Linked DNA regions of Homo sapiens. The protein of the gene in region 4 purifies or fractionates together with the protein of the main gene of each other region. This does not show direct contact. Each region holds a gene or a part of one and is shown on either strand. Other genes may lie near its edges.

What was found. The genes of interacting proteins can lie anywhere in the genome.
Region 1: the proteins of BPHL (region 4) and EVPL purify together in Homo sapiens (affinity purification with mass spectrometry; one large-scale study listed by BioGRID and IntAct). This does not show direct contact.
Region 2: the proteins of BPHL (region 4) and SULT2B1 purify together in Homo sapiens (affinity purification with mass spectrometry; one large-scale study listed by BioGRID and IntAct). This does not show direct contact.
Region 3: the proteins of BPHL (region 4) and MACROD1 fractionate together in Homo sapiens (co-fractionation; one large-scale study listed by BioGRID). This does not show direct contact.

What each region holds. Positions count from the first base shown.
Region 1 is NC_000017.11:76,016,662-76,021,468, forward strand, and holds part of EVPL (envoplakin), read right to left. Parts: coding exon 4,807-4,807; intron 2,993-4,806; coding exon 2,867-2,992; intron 2,400-2,866; coding exon 2,253-2,399; intron 1,940-2,252; coding exon 1,785-1,939; intron 1,598-1,784; coding exon 1,500-1,597; coding exon of another isoform or gene 1,434-1,499; intron 1,251-1,433; coding exon 1,078-1,250; intron 1-1,077. UniProt on the Homo sapiens protein: Component of the cornified envelope of keratinocytes. May link the cornified envelope to desmosomes and intermediate filaments.
Region 2 is NC_000019.10:48,586,010-48,590,816, forward strand, and holds part of SULT2B1 (sulfotransferase 2B1), read left to right. Parts: intron 1-1,219; coding exon 1,220-1,428; intron 1,429-4,807. UniProt on the Homo sapiens protein: Sulfotransferase that utilizes 3'-phospho-5'-adenylyl sulfate (PAPS) as sulfonate donor to catalyze the sulfate conjugation. Responsible for the sulfation of cholesterol.
Region 3 is NC_000011.10:64,151,969-64,156,775, forward strand, and holds part of MACROD1 (ADP-ribose glycohydrolase MACROD1), read right to left. Parts: intron 426-4,807; coding exon 324-425; intron 1-323. UniProt on the Homo sapiens protein: Removes ADP-ribose from aspartate and glutamate residues in proteins bearing a single ADP-ribose moiety. Inactive towards proteins bearing poly-ADP-ribose.
Region 4 is NC_000006.12:3,138,338-3,143,144, reverse strand, and holds part of BPHL (serine hydrolase BPHL isoform 1 precursor), read right to left. Parts: intron 2,760-4,807; coding exon 2,636-2,759; intron 1-2,635. UniProt on the Homo sapiens protein: Specific alpha-amino acid ester serine hydrolase that prefers small, hydrophobic, and aromatic side chains and does not have a stringent requirement for the leaving group other than preferring a primary alcohol.

The sequences.
Region 1 (4,807 bases), on a different chromosome or scaffold from region 4:
CTAGCACTTTGGGAGGCCAATGCGGGAGGATCGCTTGAGCTCAGGAGTTTGAGACCAGCCTGGGCAACATGGCAAAACCCCATCTCTACCAAAAAAATTAGCTGGGCTCAGTGTTGTACCTGTGGTCCCAACTACTCGGGAGGCTGAGGTGGGAGGATCACTCAAGCCTGGGAGGTGGAGGTTGCAGTGAGCTGAGATTATACCATTGCACACCACTGCACTCCAGCCTGGGTGACAAAGTGAGACCCCATCTCATAAAACAAAAAACAGACCAGGTGCGGTGGCTCACGCCTGTAATCCCAGCACTCTGGGAGGCCGAGATGGGTGGATCACTTAAGGTCAGGAGTTCGACATCAGCCTGGCCAACATGGTGAAACCCCATCTCTACTAAAAATACAAAAATTAGTTGGGCATGGTGGTGTGTGCCTGTAATCCCAGCTACTCCGGAGGTTGAGGCAGGAGAATTGCTTGAACCTGGGAGGCAGAAGTTGCAGTGAGCCAAGATCGTGCCACTGCACTCCAGCCTGGGTGATGCAGAGAGACTTTGTCTCAAGAAAAGAAAAGAAACTGGTTTGGAAGGATAACCCAGACTGCGGCCCGGTGTGGGTTTCACTCTGAGCACTTTTGGGAGTGTTGAGTCCACGTGCTGTTCTTGGGTAAGGAGTTTACACAATGCTGCAACCTCCCCAGGTAGGCTCCCCCTTGCAGCCAGGGGACATCTCTTCCTAAGATTCTCCAGGCTTCCTTGCTATTTCAGGAGCTTCACCAGAATACCTCCTGGGGTGTTGACATTGGGCCCTACTGGAACCTTCCTGAATGATCAGGCGAGCTGGGCATTATTACATCTGCTTCAGGGATGAGGAAACCAAGGCCCAGAGAGTTATGTAGTCCAAGATCCTGGAGCTGGTCAGTGGAGGAGCCAGGAGGGGAACCAGCTTGTCTGAGCCCGGGTCTGTCCACACCCTTCTCCATCTCCATCCCAGCCACCGCTCCTGCACTTGCCTCACCTCCCTCAAGTGTGAGCACCAGGGCCGGGCCGCTTCTCATCCCAGCCGCCCCTTCCCGCTGCTCACCCACCTCATGGCTGTGGATGCGGCCCTCCAAGTCCTCCAAGGGTGTGGGGCGGCTCAGCGGGGCCCGCGCCCAGGCCAGCACCTGCCTCTCTATCTGTCCCAGGTCTCCATCCAGCCGGGTCATCTGTGTCAGGAGCTTCTGGGCCTGTGGGTTGGCCAGGTCTGAGCCAGATGGAGCTGGGGGCAGAGGTGCTGGTGAGGGCCCAGGGCCTATCTCCAGACTGCCAGATAGGTGCCCCCACCAGGTGCCCACAGAGGGTCCTGTCGGGGTAGGGTGGAGGGGATGGGCAGGGCCACCCCAGAGATGAAATCCCCAGAGTGATGGTCCCTAACCCAAGGCGACCCCTGCCCATCACAGACCAGTCGGAAGTCGGAATCTACTCCTTCTAGCCCCACAGCCACCTCTCCCCGGGCCACCCTGGGTACCCTGCTGGCTGGGCCGAAGAGACTCCACAGCACTGGCCTTCAGGCGGCTCTGGACTGTGGCCAATTTCTGCTTCAGGGCCTGCAGCTCTGAGGCCAGCCTAGAATGAAGAGGAGATTGAAGAAAGAGGTCCCCACTCTGCCTCTCTCCCTCCCCAGCCCCAGTAGACGCAGCTTCAGGTGAAGGCCAGCCTTTGAGCAGGGGTCTGTTGGGCCATGGGCTTGGACACCGCAGGGCCGGCCTGCTCTGCCCACAGCCTGCCCCTGAGTATCCCTACACAGACCTACCGGGAGGCCCTGGCCACAGCATCAGGGTCTGGTGCTGGGATGCAGAAGCAGGCGGCGGGAGCACGCTTGGTCTCCCCGCCAGGGCCCTGCACGACCCAGGCGTGCGGGTCAGTGTTATCTACCAGCTTATACCGCTCACCCTGCAGCAGCTGCACCTGGGGGCACAGAAAGGGAGCAGCTCCTGAGGGCTCAGGGGCAGGGGGCCAAGGCCAGGGCAGAGTAGGGGCTGGGGACAGAGACAAATGGGGACAGCAGCTGGAACAGGGACAAGAGTAGGGTGGGAGGTGCTGGGGTAGAAAAGAGGCAGGACAGGACTTGGAGAGAGGAGGGTCTGAGTCAAGGGAAGGAGTAGGGCAAAAGTGGGCGCAGGAGACAGCTGGGGATGGAGCAGGGATGGGCTTGGGCAGGGGCAGGGGATGGGTTGGGCGGGGCTGGATGGTGGCAGGGGTGAGGTGGGGGAGTTCGCACTTCTCCTGAGTCCCAGTCGCAGATGCTGTCCACGTGCAGGGGCTGCTGAGGGGGGTTTCTTCGCTGTGGCAGAGGGGCCACATCCCGGCTTCGCCGCTGCAGGTCCCCAGTGGCCCTCTCGGTGACGGCCAGCCGTTTTTCCTCTGCCTGCCGGGGGCCCAGGCAGTGGGGGACTCAGGCCAGGCTGCATTGGAGGCTGGCCACACCATACCTGTCCTTCAAAAGGCCTAGAGGCTGGCCTTCATGAAGGCAGGGGTCTCTAAGTCAGCAAAGTAAAAGGAGCCCCTCTCTGGGGGACCTAGGATCCTGGGATCTGCTAGTTGCAGGGAGGGGGATGGCACAGCATCACCCAGGCCACCAAGCAGAAGCTAGACAGGCCTCAGAGCTCTCCCAGGCTGCCCTTGTCCCACTGCAAATGAGGAAACTGACGTCCAGAAGTGGGAGGAGCTTGCTGGTACCTGGCCAGCCTCCTGCTAGAGTAAACCCCCCTGCCAGCACCCAGGCCAGGGCTTGGGATAGGACTAGGTACCAAGGCAGAAGGGGTGAGGCCCAGAAAAATGGACAGGACCAATTCCCAGAAGTGGGGTGCAGACGGCCTGGTGGGGTTGTCTCACCTCCAGCTGTTGCAGCAGCTCTGTGGGGGCGCCAGGGGGGCCCCCAGGTGCAGGGCTGTACTTGGCATCCAAGTTGGAGTTGAGCTTCGCCAGGGTCTGGCTGACTGAGTCGGCCTCTTCCTGGAACTGAGTTCACTGGGTGGTCAAGGGCAGAGCCTCGTGCAACCTGCTGCCCACTGACCCTACAAACCAGCTGAACCTAAGCCAGCTAAACACAAAGCAGCTAAACCTAAACCAGCTAAACACAAACCAGCTAAACACAAACCAGATAAATGTGAAACAGCTAAACTAAACCAGTAACCGCTAAGCCAGCTAAACCTAAACCAACTAAACACAAATCAGCTAAACCTAAACCAGAAAAACCTAAGCCAGGTAAACCTAAACCAGCTAAACTTAAACCAGCTAAATCTAAACCAGCTAAACACAAACCACCTAAACCGAAACCAGCTAAACCTAAACCAGCCAAACACAAACCAGATAAACCTAAACCAGCTAAACCTAAACCAGCTAAACACAAACCAGATAAACTTAAACCAGATAAACCTAAACCAGCTAAACCTAAACCAGCTAAACACAAACCAGATAAACTTAAACCAGATAAACCTAAACCAGCTAAACACAAACCAGATAAACTTAAACCAGATAAACCTAAACCAGCTAAACTTAAACCAGCTAAACCTAAACTGTCACTCTCCCCTACTCTGGTCGGTCTTTCTTTTTCCTACCCAGGCGGCAGGACCTTTTATCACTGGTGTGCTCTTGCAAATGGGGTCTTATTTGTGCACTGAACTTAATTTTTTTAAGTGGGTCATAAAACACTTGGTCTTCGTCCTTCCTGCACAAATGAAGGGCACCGTCACCTGCCTCCCTCCAGCACCTGAAGTCTTTCTTGCTGGGACAGAGGGTATTGGAGCTGCACTTGTCCCAGCCCCGGAGAAGAAGCTGTGCTTTAAAGAAGCATTCCAGGTGCTTTGACGGAATTTTTGTCAACGTGTGTGATCACAGTCTTGTGGTTCTATAGGAAAATGTATGAAACATTATCTGCCCCCAAATCCCAGTTGCATATTATATCAGGGTTTCTCAACCGTTTTTTTTTTCATTATTATTCTCCTAAAGAGCCTTTTAAGAAATATTTTATTTAATTTCCCCCCACCTCATCCCCATAAAATTTTATTTATTTATTTATTTTGATAGAGATGTATCTATTTGTATAGAGACAGGGTCTTGCTATGTTGCCCAGGCTGGTCTGGAACTACTGGTGTCAAGCAATTCTCCTGGCTCGGCTTCCCAAAGTGCTGGAATTACAGATGTGAGCCACCACACCTGGCCCCCACGAAATTTTAATACCACAGATATGCTGTATACAGCTTAGGTGCTGTATGTGGATCTGGACTTCATGCATAAAAAGAGTTAAGATATTTTTCTGCCAGTAAGAACCAATTTTCACCCCCCTGGGAACCGCTTCACCCTGTTGAGAATGTGCCCATGCCTTTCTTTCCCTCTGGGACCGAGTGGCAACCACACAGCTCTATTTTATTTTATTTTTGAGGTGGAGTCTCTCTCTGTCACCCAGGCTGGAGTGCAGTGGACCAATCTCGGCCCACTGCAACCTCCGCCTCCTGGGTTCAAGCGATTCTCCTGCCTCAGCCTCCTGAGTAGCTCGGATTACAGGCGCGTGCCACCACATCTGGCTAATTTTGGTATTTTTAGTAGAGACAGGGTTTCACCATGTTGGCCAGGCTGATCTCGAACTCCTGACCTCAAGTGATCCACCAGCCTCGGCCTCCCAAAGTGCTGGGATTACAGGTGTGAGCCACCGCGCCCTGCCAGCTCTGTCTAGTTGGGAGGTGCAGTGCCTCTCCTGTGGGCAGGGGTGCTGTGCTCCCGCCCCTGCCGCCCCTGCCGCCCCTGCCGCCCCTGCCGCCTGCCCGAGGGCTCACC
Region 2 (4,807 bases), on a different chromosome or scaffold from region 4:
AGTTCAAGACCAGCCTGGGCAACATAGTGGGACCGTATGTCTTCTAAAAATAAAAATAAGAAATTAGCCAGGTGTGGTTGTGTGCACCTGTGGTCTCAGCTACTCGGGAGGCTGAGGCAGGAGGATCTCTTAAGCCCGGGATTTCAAGGCTGCAGTGAGCTGTGATCACACCACTGCACTCCAGCCTGGGTGACAGAGCAAGATTCTGTCCCCAAAAAAATAAATAAGTAAAGCAATTCTGGCTGTACTAATAGATCAGCCTCAGAATTTCAGCGGCTGAAGCCAAGTTTGTTTCTTTTTCCTATAAACTGTAGTTGGTGCAGGAAGGGTGGAAGGAAGTTGGTGGGGGGATATCCATGCATTCCCAGACATTTGGTTCCTTCCATCTTATGGCTCTGCCATCCCCGGGAGTCCCAGATTCTCCCCTGGAGTCTCTGTATCCAGAAGCAGAGAGGGAGTGGAGAGTCACGTGGCGTGCGTTTATGGGCCAGGCCTGGAAATAGCCGCACATCACATCGCCGCCACCTATACTTCCTTGGCCAGACCCAGTCTCTTGGCCCCACACATAGCAGCAGGGGAGAAGAGAAAAGGTCATCACGCCATATTCCCAGCAGAAAAATGAAATGGGGTTGGGTGGACAGCTCACCAGTCTCTGCCCTGCACCACTTTCCTAGCTTTGTCCCCTTGGACGAGCGACATGGTTTCTGTAAGGCTCAGTTTCTGGCTCCGAAAATGAGGTTAAGCAACCTTGCCTTCTCTGCCAGCTGTAAGGAATCAGTGTGATAAAATAGGTGGTAAATTGCTCAATAAATGCTGTCAGGCAGGGCGTGGTGGCTCACAGCTGTAATCCCAGCAGTTTGGGAGGCCGAGGTGGGCAGAGCACCTGAGGTCAGGAGTTCGAGACCAGCCTGGCCAACATGGGGAGACCTCGTCTCTACTAAAAATACAAAATTAGCCAGGCGTGGTGGTGGGCGCTTGTAATGCTAGCTACTCGGCTGAGGCTGAGGCAGGAGAATTGCTTGAGCCTGGGAGGTGGAGGTTGCAGTGAGCCGAGATCGCGCCATTGCACTCCAGCGTGGGCAACAGAGTAAGACTCTGTCTTAAAAAAAAATAATAAAAGGTGGCAAATTGCTCAATAAGTGCTGTTGTGATTATTCTGATGATATCTCCCTCTTCAGCCCTCCCACACCCAATTAATCTGCTCGATTTCTCCCAACAGGCACGACCTGGATGATCGAGATCATCTGCTTAATCCTGAAGGAAGGGGATCCATCCTGGATCCGCTCCGTGCCCATCTGGGAGCGGGCACCCTGGTGTGAGACCATTGTGGGTGCCTTCAGCCTCCCGGACCAGTACAGCCCCCGCCTCATGAGCTCCCATCTTCCCATCCAGATCTTCACCAAGGCCTTCTTCAGCTCCAAGGCCAAGGTTGGGAGGAGGGGTGTGTGTCAGTTGGGAGGGGCTGCATGGGTGTATGGGGTAATGGGGGGACGGAGCATAACTCATTGATTCATTCAGCACCTATTTGTTAAACACCTACTATGTGCCTGACTCTGATCTAGCACAGTGGTCAATATACACACAGAAATGCCTGCCCTTTGGCAGGGAGTGATGGCTCATGCCTGTAGTCCCAGCACTTTGGGAGGCTGAGGCGGGAGGATCACTTTGGGCCAGGAGTTTGAGACCAGCTTGGGCAACATAGTCAGACCACATCATTACAAGAAATTTTAAAAATCAGTCAGACGTGGTGGCACACACTTGTAGTCCCAGCTACTTGGAATGCTGAGGTGGGAGGATCACTTGAGCCCAGCAGGTCAAGGCTGCACTGAGCTGAAATCACCTTACTGCACTCCATCCTAGGCAACAGGGCAAGACTGTCTCAAAAAAAAAAAAAAAAAAAAAAAAAAAAAAAAAGCCGGTGCTGGCATGGTGGCTCACGCCTGTAATCCCAGCACTTTGGGAGGCAGAGGCAGGCAGATCACTTGAGGCCAGGAGTTCAATACCAGCTTGGCCAACATGGTGAAACCATGTCTCTACTAAAAATACAAAAATTAGTCGGATCTGGTGGTGGGTGCCTGTAATCCCAGCTACTCAGGAGGCTAAGGCAGGAGAATTGCTGGAACCTGGGAGGTGGAGGTTGCAGTGAGCTGAGATGGCACCACTGCACTCCAGCCTGGGAGACAGACCAAGATTTCATCTCAAAAAAAAAAAAAAAAATTACAGCCAGGCGCAGTGGCTCACGTTTGTACTCCCAGCACTTTGGGAAGCCAAGGTGGGCAGATCACCTGAGGTCAGGAGTTTGAGACCATCCTGACCAACATGGAGAAAACCTGTCTCTACTAAAAATACAAAGTTAGCTGGGCGTGGTGGCACATGCCTGTAATCCCAGCTACTTGGGAGGCTGAGGCAGGAGAATCGCTTGAACCCAGGAGGCGGAGGTTGTGGTGAGCCGAGATCGCGCCATTGCACTCCAGCCTGGGCAACAAAAGCAAAACTCCGTCTCAAAAAAAAAACCCCCATATATTATACTACATATTATAATAATTTAATAGTATTACAATATACTTTAATTATATTTAATATTTATATGTTTAACATATAATAACATAATGCAATATAATATAATACATAAAATGTCTGATGGGATAAATTTACATTGGGGGGAGAGGGCTGGAGATAGAGTTAGAGGTGGGTGTGGGGCTGCAATTATAAATAAGGAGGTCAAGGGGGCCCCCAGTGAGTAAAAACCCGGGAGGTGATGGTGGGAGCCACAGAGGTTTCTAGAGGAAGAGCATTTCAGGCAAGAGGGAAAAGCAGGTGCAAAGGCCCTGAGGTGGGTGTATCTGAGGTGCAAGAGGGAGGTCGGTGTGGCCGGAGCCAAGTGAGCAAGTGGGGAAAGGAGTGGAGATGAGGTCCGGGTGGGGAGGCAACAGGGGCCAAAATGTGCAGGGCCGCGTGGGCCCGGTGCGGACTTGAGCTCTGACCGAGTGACGAGGCAGCGCGGCAGGGATCGCAGCAGAGGAGGAGCCCGAGCGGGCTTAGGCTTCACCGGCGCCCTCTGGCGGTCAGATGGGGACCGACTGTCGAGAGAGCAGAAGCCGGGAAGCCCGAGAGGCGGCGCTGGCCGGGGTCCAGGGGAGGGGACGGTGGCTGGACTAGGGTGATGGTCACGGAGGTATTTTGAAGGTGAGACCGGGAGGATTTGCTGACAGACTGGATGTGGGTGTGAGAGAAGGGGATGAGTCAAGGGTGACTCCAAGGTTTCGGCGGAAGCAACTGTCAGGGTGGGGCAACTGGGAAGGGGAGGAGGGAGGGGAGCAGGCGGGGGAGGAAGACACGGGCTCTGCGGCGGCCCATCCCACGTCCAGCAGAGGCTGCCGGTGGGCACAGAAATGCACCCATCGGGATCTGAGGGGAGAGACTTGGGCTGACACGTCCATTTGCAATTCCTTGGCACATATATTCTGTAATTAATCGAAGCTCCAGGACTGGGTGATATCGCCAAGGAATTGAGCGTGGACAGAGCAGAGAGGGGGGGCTGCAATCAGGAAGTCCCCAAGACCACCCTCAGGCTCAACGACTTAGCAAAACTCATAGTGTTCAGCAAAGCTGCTGGACTCCCGGGTTATAGTCAATTACAATGAAAGCAAACGTGAAAATCAGGCAAGGGGGCCGGGCGCGGTGGCTCACGCCTGAAATCCCAGCACTTTCAGAGGCCAAGGTGAGCAGTTGATTGAGCCCAGGAGTTCAAGACCAGCTGGGCAACTTAGAAACACCCATCTCTACAAAAAAGTTTAAAAATTCGTCACGTGTAGTGGCATACACCTGTAGTCCCAGCTACTTGGGAGGCTGAGGTAGGAAGATCACTTGAGCCTGGGAGTTTCAGGCTGCAGTGAGCCATGATTGTGCCACAGGCACTCCAGCCTCAAGGACAGAACAAGACCTTGTTTCTTTTCTTTTTTCTTTTTCTTTCTTTTTTCTTTTTTTGAGACAGAGTTTCCCTCTTGTTGCCCAGGCTGGAGTGCAATGGCACGATCTTGGCTCACTGCAACCTCTGCCCCTCTGCCTCCAGGGTTCAAGCGATTCTCTTGCCTCAGCCTCCCAAATAGCTGGGATTACAGGCGCCCACCACCATGCCCAGCTAATTTTTTGTATTTTCAGTAGAGACGGGGTTTCACCATGTTGACCAGGCTGGTCTCGAACACCTGACCTCAGGTGATCCACCCGCCTTAGCCTCCCAAAGTGTTGGGATTACAGGTGTGAGCCACAGTGCCTGGCCGACAAGACCTTGTTTCTAAAAAATAAGACTAGGCTGGGCATGGTGGCTCATGCCTGTAATCCCAGCACTTGGGGAGGCCGAAGCAGATGGATCACTTGAGGCCGGGAGTTTGAGACCAGCCTGGCCAACATGGTGAAAACCCGTCTCTACTAAAAATACAAAAATTAGCCAGGCATGGTGGCACCCACCTGTAGTCCCAGCTACTCGGGAGGCTGAGGCAGGAGAATTGCTTGAACCTGGGAGGCAGAGGTTGCAGTGAGCTGAGATCGTGCCACTGCACTCCAGCCTGGGAGACACAGCGAGACTTCGTCTAAAACAAAACAAAACAAAACAAAAAAATCCAAGGGATTAGGAAATACCTCTCAGGACCTAGGGGCAAGGGCCAGGCCTTTCTCTGGGCAGAAAGGAATCCTCTACAGCACAGGAATCAGGAAGGAGCCCTGGAAAGCACCAATGTTATTACAAGACCTCACACCAGCAGCCACGTTTCTCTAAGTCTGTTTTCATTTAGTTTTTGGTGGATCTGGG
Region 3 (4,807 bases), on a different chromosome or scaffold from region 4:
AAATACAAAAATTATCCAGGCATGGTGGTGCATGTCTGTAATCCCAGCTACTCAGGAGGCTGAGGCAGGAGAATCGCTTGAACCCGGGAGGTGGAGGTTGCAGTGAGCCAAGATCGAGCCATTGCACTCCAGCCTGCGCAAAAAGAGTGAAATTCCATCTCAAAAAATAAAATAAAATAATTGAATGAGGTGATACACGCGGAGCACCTGCCTGCAGCAAGCACTCGATACATGCCACTGGACTAGCTCTTCTTGTCTGCACAATTCTCCCAAGCCACGGGTCTGGAGCCTGCCCACCAGGGCCTCCCCCGAGCAGGGCCTACCTTTCGCCATCTCCTTCCATGTCGGGATCTTCTTCAGCCTGACAAAGTCCTTGCAGAAGTAATGTTCCTCCCGCTGCTTGTCACTCAGGCCCTTCAGAAAGGCTGCAGAGGCAGGAAGGAGGATCAGGGTGGGGGCAGAGGAACGGGCCTGGGGCTTGCACCCCCACATCTCCTTTCTTGCCTCATCCAAGAATGCAAACCAGCTCTTCCTGTCCCTCCTTCTCTGGGCACACAGGGCAGGCATGCTGGGGAAACCTCAGAGGCCCCTAGAATATCTTGTCCTGCTCTCTTTGTTCAGGGAGGGAAACTGAGGTCTGGGGAGGCTGAGGGACTGGCTCAGGCATCGCAGACCTGGGTTGTGATGAATTCAGCTCTGCCACTTTCCAGCAGCGTCCACATCTCTCTGGGTCCCCCGTTTCTCCCTGATTAGAACGGGGGTGAAGACGTCCCCTGCAGAACAGCTCCGAGCTTCCTCCCACACACTAAGGCCAAGCCGGTTGGCAGCACTCAGCCAGCGACATTATCCATCAGTCCCACCGCCAGTCAGTTCTGCCCTCACTGTCACTGCATGCAGGCAGCGGGACAGCTGTCCTCCTCCAGGAGCTGCAGGACCAAGTGGACCTGGCACCTGTCCCCAACATCCCCCCCGGCAGCGGCTGAGGGCTCCCAGCATGACCAATGGGGTTGGAATCGTTCTCGTTTTACAGATGAGGAAACCGGGGCTCAGGGAGGTTGGGAGGCCACCCTCACACAGCAGGGACTTGAGTGAGGAGCCAGGCACCCCCCACCCGCTCACAGACTCGGGGTCCACCCTGGCCGGCTCCCCTTGCCTGAGCACTGTCCCATGGGCTCCGCCTTCCCTTGGGGGTGGCACCAGGCACAGAAACCTGGAACCCGTCTCAGAAGGGCCCGCCCCGACCGCGCCAGGCCAGGCTAGCAGCTCACGGGCTCCCCCTGCTGGCCCGAGGCCGCCTGCACACCCAGGCGCTCAGCCCAGCCTGGCACCCTGGACCACAGGCTCCCGGGATGGGGCAGCCCCCACGGCAAACAGCAAAGGCTACAATTGAGAAACTCAAAAAGCATCAAAAAATATGTAGAGGCGGGAGAGCAATTAGAGGAGGTGGTGAGAAAGGAAGGACTGCAGCCTGGAAGCTTCTATGCACATGGCAGTGAGGGGGACAGGTAGGTCCCTCCACAAATGTTCAGGGAGGTTGGGAGGCCACCCTCACACAGCAGGGTGTTTTCCCGGCCAGAGTCACTTCATCATCCAGGCCTCCATCTCCTCATCTAACCACTGCTGGCAGGGGTGATAACAACCCAAGGATGCTGAGAGCATTAGATGACAGAACTCATGCAAGGGGCCCAGTCCAGAGTCCCTGCTGGATGCAAAGGTGGGGTCATCACAAAAGGCTAGGCCCACCCCTGGTCAGCCCCCACTGCTGCTCAAGCCAGAGCCACCTTTCCTGGCAGCCACTTCTGCCCCCTCTTCCATAAACATGTTTGGGCACGAGTAGGTCCTGCATTCAGTACCAGCGCTGCCACCTGCCAAGCCCACCTCCCAGAGGACTCACTGCTGCAGGTCCCCCTCCACCAGGCTGTCCTGCCTGCCCTCAAATAATCCCGTCCCCTCCCTCAACGCCCGCATTCCACGCCCCTGCAGCTGCCCCCTCCTCTGCTGTCTCCACTTCTTCCCTCCCATGCTCCCTTCAGTCCACCCAGTCTGGTCCCTCCTTCCAACAAGGTCAAGGTCACCACACCCCATGCAGCGGCCCCTCCTGCCTTCCCTGTGGACAGGAAGTGTCCTTGCTGCTTTCCTCCCTAGGTCTTCTAATCAGTTGCACAGATTCAAAACGCTCTTTAAGCAAGCAACCTCCGGGGCTGTCCCTCCACTCTCTTCTGAGCCTCTGACCCCCACAGTGCCTGCCTGCTCTCATTCCCCAAAGCCCAGGCATGCAAAACAGAACGTTTGACTCTTTCCCCCAAAACGTCATTTTTTTGTTGCTCCATTCTTCCCTCTTTTTTACTCGAGACCCTGCACCAGGGGTCCCTCCCTTTCCATCCTCTTTTGGATTGATCCCCGTGACACCCTAGAAACCAAGCCTTCCTCTCACCCTCCAGGACTGAGCCTTCCTCATGGCTCCCTAGATCCCACAGACGCTCCCAACTCCCAGCTGATCTCCGTGTGCATCTCATCCCCATCTGTTCCTTGACCGGCAGCCATGGATCCTGGGAACATAAATCAGGTGCCATCCCTCCTCTGTTCAAAACTGCATTCAAACGCCGGTCCTCTGGCCTCTCTCCCACCTCACTCCCAATGCTGCCTCCCCCACTACACCAGTTCCCCAAACAGCCAGGCTGCTTCCTGCCCCAGGCCCTTTGTACCTGCTGTGCTCTGCAGGATATGGGATAGTTTGCTTTTGTTTACACTTATTCTTTTATTTTTTTTTGAGACGGAGTCTCACTCTGTCGCCCAGGCTGGAGTGCAGTGGCACGATCTTGGCTCACTGCAACCTGCACTCCTGGATTCAAGCAATTCTCCTGCCTCAGCCTCCCTAGTAGCTGGGATTACACGCGTGTGCCAGCACACCCAACTAATTTTTGTATTTTAATAGAGATGGGGTTTCACCATGTTGGCCAGGCTGGACTTGAACTCCTGACCTCAAGCAATCCACCCATGTCAGCCTCCCGAAGTGCTGGAATTACAGGCGTGAGCCACGGCGCCGGCCCCCTTTCTTGATCTTGGCCATCTTGACCTGTAGGTTCCATAGGGGATCTGCTGTGTTTGCCATCAGATTCCCACCACCTGGCACGGTGTGTGGGCACCTGAGGGTGCCTGAGGGGCACGCTGAGGAATAAATGAGCCAAGACCAAAGGTTGAGGGCGAGTTTGCTAAGTACAGAGTCTTCTAGGCAGAGGGAACAGTATGTGCAAAAGCCCAGAGGTAAGAGGGAGCCAGAGATGATCCCCTAATTAAAAAAGAAAAAAAAGAGAGAGAGCATTTGGGTGGAGAAAGTGAGGCCAGTCGGTCTCTCCAGGTCTGCCTCCCTGTCTGAGGACGGACAGATGCTGGTGGCAGCCGGCCTAGACCCAGGCTGCGCCTTTTCTTCTGTTATAGGTCCCGCCAGGTTTGGGTTCGTGACCTCCCAACACCATGCTCAGTTTGAAGCCTTGGGTTTTCCCATCTCTGGAATAGGGACAAGGCAGGCCTTCCCTTGCTAACACCCAGGCTTGCTGGGAGGGTCAAAGGAGAAGGTGGCTGTGTGCTGCAAAGTGCGGTCTACACGCCAGACACACTCACTCCTTCCTGGCGGCTAAATAATGCCCAAAGAGAACAAAGCAAACAGGACAAAATTGTGGAGAACTTTTTTTTCCAACTTGGGGACACAGCAGCCGGAGGAACTTTTCTAATTATTTGGGTCCCCAGCACTTGGGGAGACCAAGGCAAGCCAATCACCTGAGCCCAGGAGTTCGAGACCAGCCTGGACAATATGGAGCAACCCCATCTCTACCAAAAAATACAAAAAATCAGCTGAGCGGCCGGGCATGGTGGCTCACACCTGTAATCCCAGCATTTTGGGAGGCCGAGACAGGTGGATCACCTGACATCAGGAGTTTGAGATCAGCCTGGCCAACATGGTGAAACCCCATCTCTACTAAAAATACAAAATTAGCCGGGTGTGGTGGTACATGCCTGTAATCCCAGCTACTCGGGAGGCTGAGGCAGGAGAATCGCTTGAACCTGGGAGGCGGAGGTTGCGGTGAGCTGAGATCACACCATTGCACTCCAGCCTGGGCAACAAGAGCAAAACTCCATCTCAAAAAAAAAAAAAAAAAAAAAATCAGCTGAGCGTGGTGGACATGTGCCTGTAGTCCCAACTGCCTGTGAGGCTGAGGCAGGAGGATCGCTTCAGCCTGGGAGGTCAAGGCTTCAGTGAGCTGTGATTGTGCCACTGCACTCCAGACTGCCCAACAGAGCGAGACCTTGTCTCTAAATAAATAATTTGAATCCCCATATTTGTCACCTTGCACAACTGTGACCTCCCCACTGCGAGGCCTTGGCATGCCACTGTGTGGGCACTCCCAGACGGCTGGACCTGTGGCCAGAAAGTCAGGTACCCACCGTGATGCTGGCGGGACTGGTGGGCTGGGACCCGGACGGACCCCAGAGGCCTTGCTGAAGTGTCTCTGGCTGGGCAGGCCCTGGGAATCCCATGGAACTAGACCAGCGTGACCAGAGACACCTCAGGTGCCCTAGCAGATATCATCTGGCAGATGCCACCACCTTGTTCTAGAGAGGAGGCAGAGTGACCTGCCCCCAGTCACACATAAGCGAGAGGAACCTGAACTTGCTCCCACACTGCCCTCCCTAAGCATGGTAGCCTGGTCTGAGTGATCCACAGCCCACAAAGCCCCTTCTCTCCAGCAAAGCCCACAGGATTGCTCCACTTCCCAGAGACAGCATGCTGGCTCTGCCACCAGCTGGC
Region 4 (4,807 bases):
CCAGGTTCAAGTGATTCTCTGCCTCAGCATCTTGAGTAGCTGGGATTACGGGTGCCCACGACCATGTCTGGCTAATTTTTGTATTTCTAGTAGAGACGAGGTTTCACCATGATGGCCAGGCTGGTCTTGAACTCCTGACCTCAAGTGATCTGCCCACCTCGGCCTCCCAAAGTGCTGGGATTACAGGTGTGAGCCTGTAAGGGTGTTTTTCTCCTATACTGATGTACTGTGTTGCTAGGAGATGGGCCTAAATTAAACTTTAATTCCTAAATTAAACTTTCTTGTAGACTGACTTTAATTGAACCTGGCTCTTTAAGGGCACATAACACATTTACTATGTGTGTCACTGTGCAAAACCTGTCATTTCTGAAGCTGGAAGACAATTAACCAGGTCACCTGGTATCTTATTCTAGGCATGTTACCATCATACATATTAAGAGATAAGTGGCAGCTGTGCTATGGTGGAAAAGCACCATATTAGGAGAAAAATCTAAGATTAATTATTTACTAGCTATACAACCTTGAAAGATTGCTTAACATCTCTCAGCCATGATTTCTCATCTGTAAAATGGATAATATTTTTCATAAATATGTCATAAACTATAACTAGATACTATATATAAAATACCTTTTAAAATATTAAGTGCTATATGGAGATATCACTTTGTACACTGCAAACGTATACAATCAAAAGCACAAAAACTGAGATTGTATAAAAAACTTTTGCAGGCCGGGCATGGTGGTTCATGCCTGTAATCCCAGCACTTTGGGAGGCCAAGGTGGGTGGATCACAAGGTCAAGAGATCGAGACCATCCTGGCTAACACAGTGAAACCCCGTCTCTACTAAAAATGCAAAAATTAGCTGGGCGTGGTGGCGGGTGCCTGTAATCCCAGCTACTCAGGAGGCTGAGGCAGGAGAATCACTTGAACCCAGGAGGCAGAGGTTGCAGTGAGCCGAGATCGCGCCATTGCACTTCAGCTTGGGCAACAAGAGTGAAACTGTGCCTCAAAAAAAAAACAAACAAAAAAAACTTTTGCAAGGATTAATAAGAAAGTATACTACTGGAATTTTGTACCATGACCATAACTTAGTATTATAATTTTATAAAGTCTAGTTTGAAAATACCTTTTATTCGCTACTAAATAAATTTATACTTATTTATTTATTTCTGAGACGGAGTCTCACTCTGTCACCCAGCTGGAGTGTAGTGGCATAATCTTGGCTCACTGCAACCTCCGCCTCCCAGGTTCAAGCGATTCTCCTGACTCAGCTTCCTGAGTAGCTGGGGTTACAGGCACCCGCCACCATGCCCGGCTAATTTTTGTATTTTTAGTACAGATGGGGTTTCGCCATGTTGGCTAGGCTGGTCTTGAACTCCTGGCCTCAAGTGAACCGCCTGCCTCAGCCTCCCAAAGTGCTGCAATTACAGGTGTGAGCCACTGTGCCCAGCCCCTACTAAATCAATTTAAAAACTCCAAGCTGGGAGTGGTGGCTCATGCCTGTAATCCCAGCACTTTGGGAGGCCAAGGCAGGCGGATCACGAGGTCAGGAGTTTGAGACTAGCCTGGCTAACATTGTGAAACCCGTCTCTACTGAAAATACAAAAAATTAGCTGGGCGTGGTGGCGCACACCTGTAATCCCACCTATTTGGGAGACTGAGGTGGGAGAATCGCTTGAACCTGGGAGGCGGAGGTTGCAGTTAGCCGAGATCGTGCCACTGCACTCCAGCCCAGGTGACAGTGCGAGACTCCGACTCCAAAAAAAAACCAACTCCCTCATTAAACCTCTTTGTCCACCCGCAGTATAATCCTGCCTAACTCCCACCTTTGCTCTTCACTGACTCTATGCTCTTACCAAATGAATTATTTGTTATACAGGCTCATGTGTATTTTTGATTCATGGTTGAAGTGGTATAGGAGGAATGTGTGGAATAAAGAGATGCCTGTTAACTTAAAAAATGCTAAATGGATATAGCACTATCCATTATGGATATAGTAATTATAAAGGTTTATGGTAATTGTATTTTATTATAGAAAAGAAACTTTTTTTCCTCCTTTAAAAATTCTCTGAGAAATCTGTTGTTAAATACATCATAGAACAGAGCGAGAAGGGAGCAGTGGAGCTGTTTCTGTGCCTGCTTTCCCTGCTGGCCTGGGGGCTTTAGGGACAGGGAACACTACCATTAACTGTGCTGAGTAGGGCTGGCTGTCAGCAGACATCAGAAATTTGGTTTAACAGATTTTTTTAAATTGGGTGGTCAGTGCTTTTATAATGATAAAAAACTAAACTGAAAATTCCCAAATTGTGTGAAACTGTTTCGGTTAATACTGATGGAAATAAATCTAAACTATTACCAAGTGACAGGGCTTAGCACCTATGAGCATGTTTGCCACTCATGAAAGTAAGAGCTGTCTATCTGAACATGCCTTTCCTTCTGGTTATCAGTCACCCACAGTTCAGGGCTTCTCTCTTCCGTGGTACCCTAAATAAAGCGGTGCTACTGACTGGCATTGGCAAAAGGGGGGCTGTGCACTCTAAAACTCCAACTCCTCTTGGTTATTTTCCTTCCAGTAGCTTTGCCCATTGACTCCGAGGCTCTCGGGGGGAGTGTGAAGGCGGTGACAGGACTTACCGTGAGCCTTTCACGTGCTTATGAATGAAGTCGGCATGAAACCGTGGGACCAGAGGATCCTTCTCACCGTGCACAATCAAGGCGGGGCACTGGACCCGGGGCAGCAGGTGCCGGCAGATGTTACCTGACGGATACACAGCACGAGGAATCTGCTTTAGTGCAACCATTCTACGCGGTCAGAGGAGGCGAAACTCGGCGAGCCCTGCCCCTCCTTGGCCCTCAGTTTCCCTATCCGTAAAAACTGTGTTTTGGATTTGACCGTGCCTGGGATTCCTTCCAGCTCTAACATTCTTTGGGTTCCCTTTTCTGTTTCTCTCTGTTTCTTGTTTGTTTGCCTGTTTCTGAGTTCTACTAGTAAATAAGCAGCCTGATTTAAATTCGCATAAAATAGTAGGAAAATCAAATAAACACCCCACCACTATATTCCACAGTGGCGGTTCCCACCGTGAAAACAGTGGTAGGTGCTTGACACCTGTAGAGCTTTTCCCTGGAAATCACGTTTCAGATGAGTGTAGGGGCCCCGGCCAGCCCTCAAAGCATATGAACCTCACAAGGAATTAATTATACAACTTGCGCACGGTAAAGCAGCTTCTCCTTATCGCTGATGCATCTGTGACACTCCTGACTAACATACTTTGGAGAGACTGTAAGGACTTACCCCCATTTATGAGAACTTTCCTGAGGCAATGATGGACAGCCTGGGCCCTAGTCCCTGTACTGCAGTTTCCTGCCTCTGTGAGGCTGTGGTGGCTCCTTAACCACTGGGAGCTTCAGCCACAAACAGGAACAATCACAGTTCCCCGGGGCTGTTGTGGGGCTAAAAAGAGAGTTGCGTCTGCGGTTCCTGGCATCCCTAAGCTAGCTCTTTCCTTCTCCATTCCCTCTCCGTGTGTGTCAAGAGGAAGGCACTGCAGCTCTGAGAAGGCTGGGAGCTGCCCCGACGGGGCAGTGCTCCCCCGCCCTGCACGGGCCCCAGGCCTTTCCCTCCTCTTCAGTGGGAAGTCACTGCCTGCTAAGTGAGAAGCGGACCTGCTGACTAGGGAAATACTTCTCCAGGTCTCTGACACTTCCCTCTCCTGTCCCGAGATGACACACACCGGCCAGCTGCATCATCACGTGATGATCAAAGTCAACATGCCTGAGTGCTCACTTGGTGCCAGCAACTGTTTAAACAATTTCACATCTGTTAAACACAGTAGTTACATGTTTTAACTCATTCAGCATATAAAAATGTTTGTTCATTAAGGACTTCTGTAATAACAGTAATACCAACCTTTCACTAGACACTTACTCTGTCTTTGATCCTGCACCAAAGCTGAATAGATAATACCTCATTTAATCCCCACAACAACAGCTTTTCGAGGTCACAGATAGGAAACCGAAGCTTCAAGAAGCTAAGTTACCTGCCCAGATCCATTCTAACAGCAAGCCGGGGACACAGGCAGAACTCACACTCAGGGCCATCGCACTCCAGAGCCGTGCAATGCAATGAATCCCTACACTATACCAAGCATCCATAAACCTGAGAGGACAGTCGGAAAAGAGGGCTCCTACCAAATGAGTCAGCACAGAAGGGGGACGCATCACGAAGGCCCTCGCTGTGAGACAGTTTATACACTGCTACAGCCTCTGTATCATGAACGTATTTTTGAATTGCTGATTTAACCCTATTTCCACCTTTAAATCTTCCTGTCTTTTCACTACTCTCTTCAACAAAACATCCAAGTTTACATTTTACAAATGTGCCCTCTTTAATGGAGAACTGTCTCAAACATCGTTTCATGGCATTTTTTTGTTTTAAGAGCAGAGATTTCCAGGGCCTGTCTCCATGGGTGGATGCTGCATCTGAACAGAAACATTATAAGGCATACATTTGATATATTTGCTGTTTTCAACTCAAACCAGAAGAGTAACATTTCCAAATGTCCTTTTCATTGTGAAAGTTTTGGCAGATGATTCATGCAGGAAATGATTACCTAATGGATCAAATTGGTCCTTCAATCACAACCATTTTGTAACAATGCACTCCAAGATTAGATCTTAGCTACTCTATTTTCTCAGTAATTAAAAAAAAATGAGATTATAAACATAAACAGCTGTATGAAAATAAACTATAATTCAGAATTTCTCTTAAAGATGTCAATTCTTACTTTAACTGGAAATCTTGTTAAT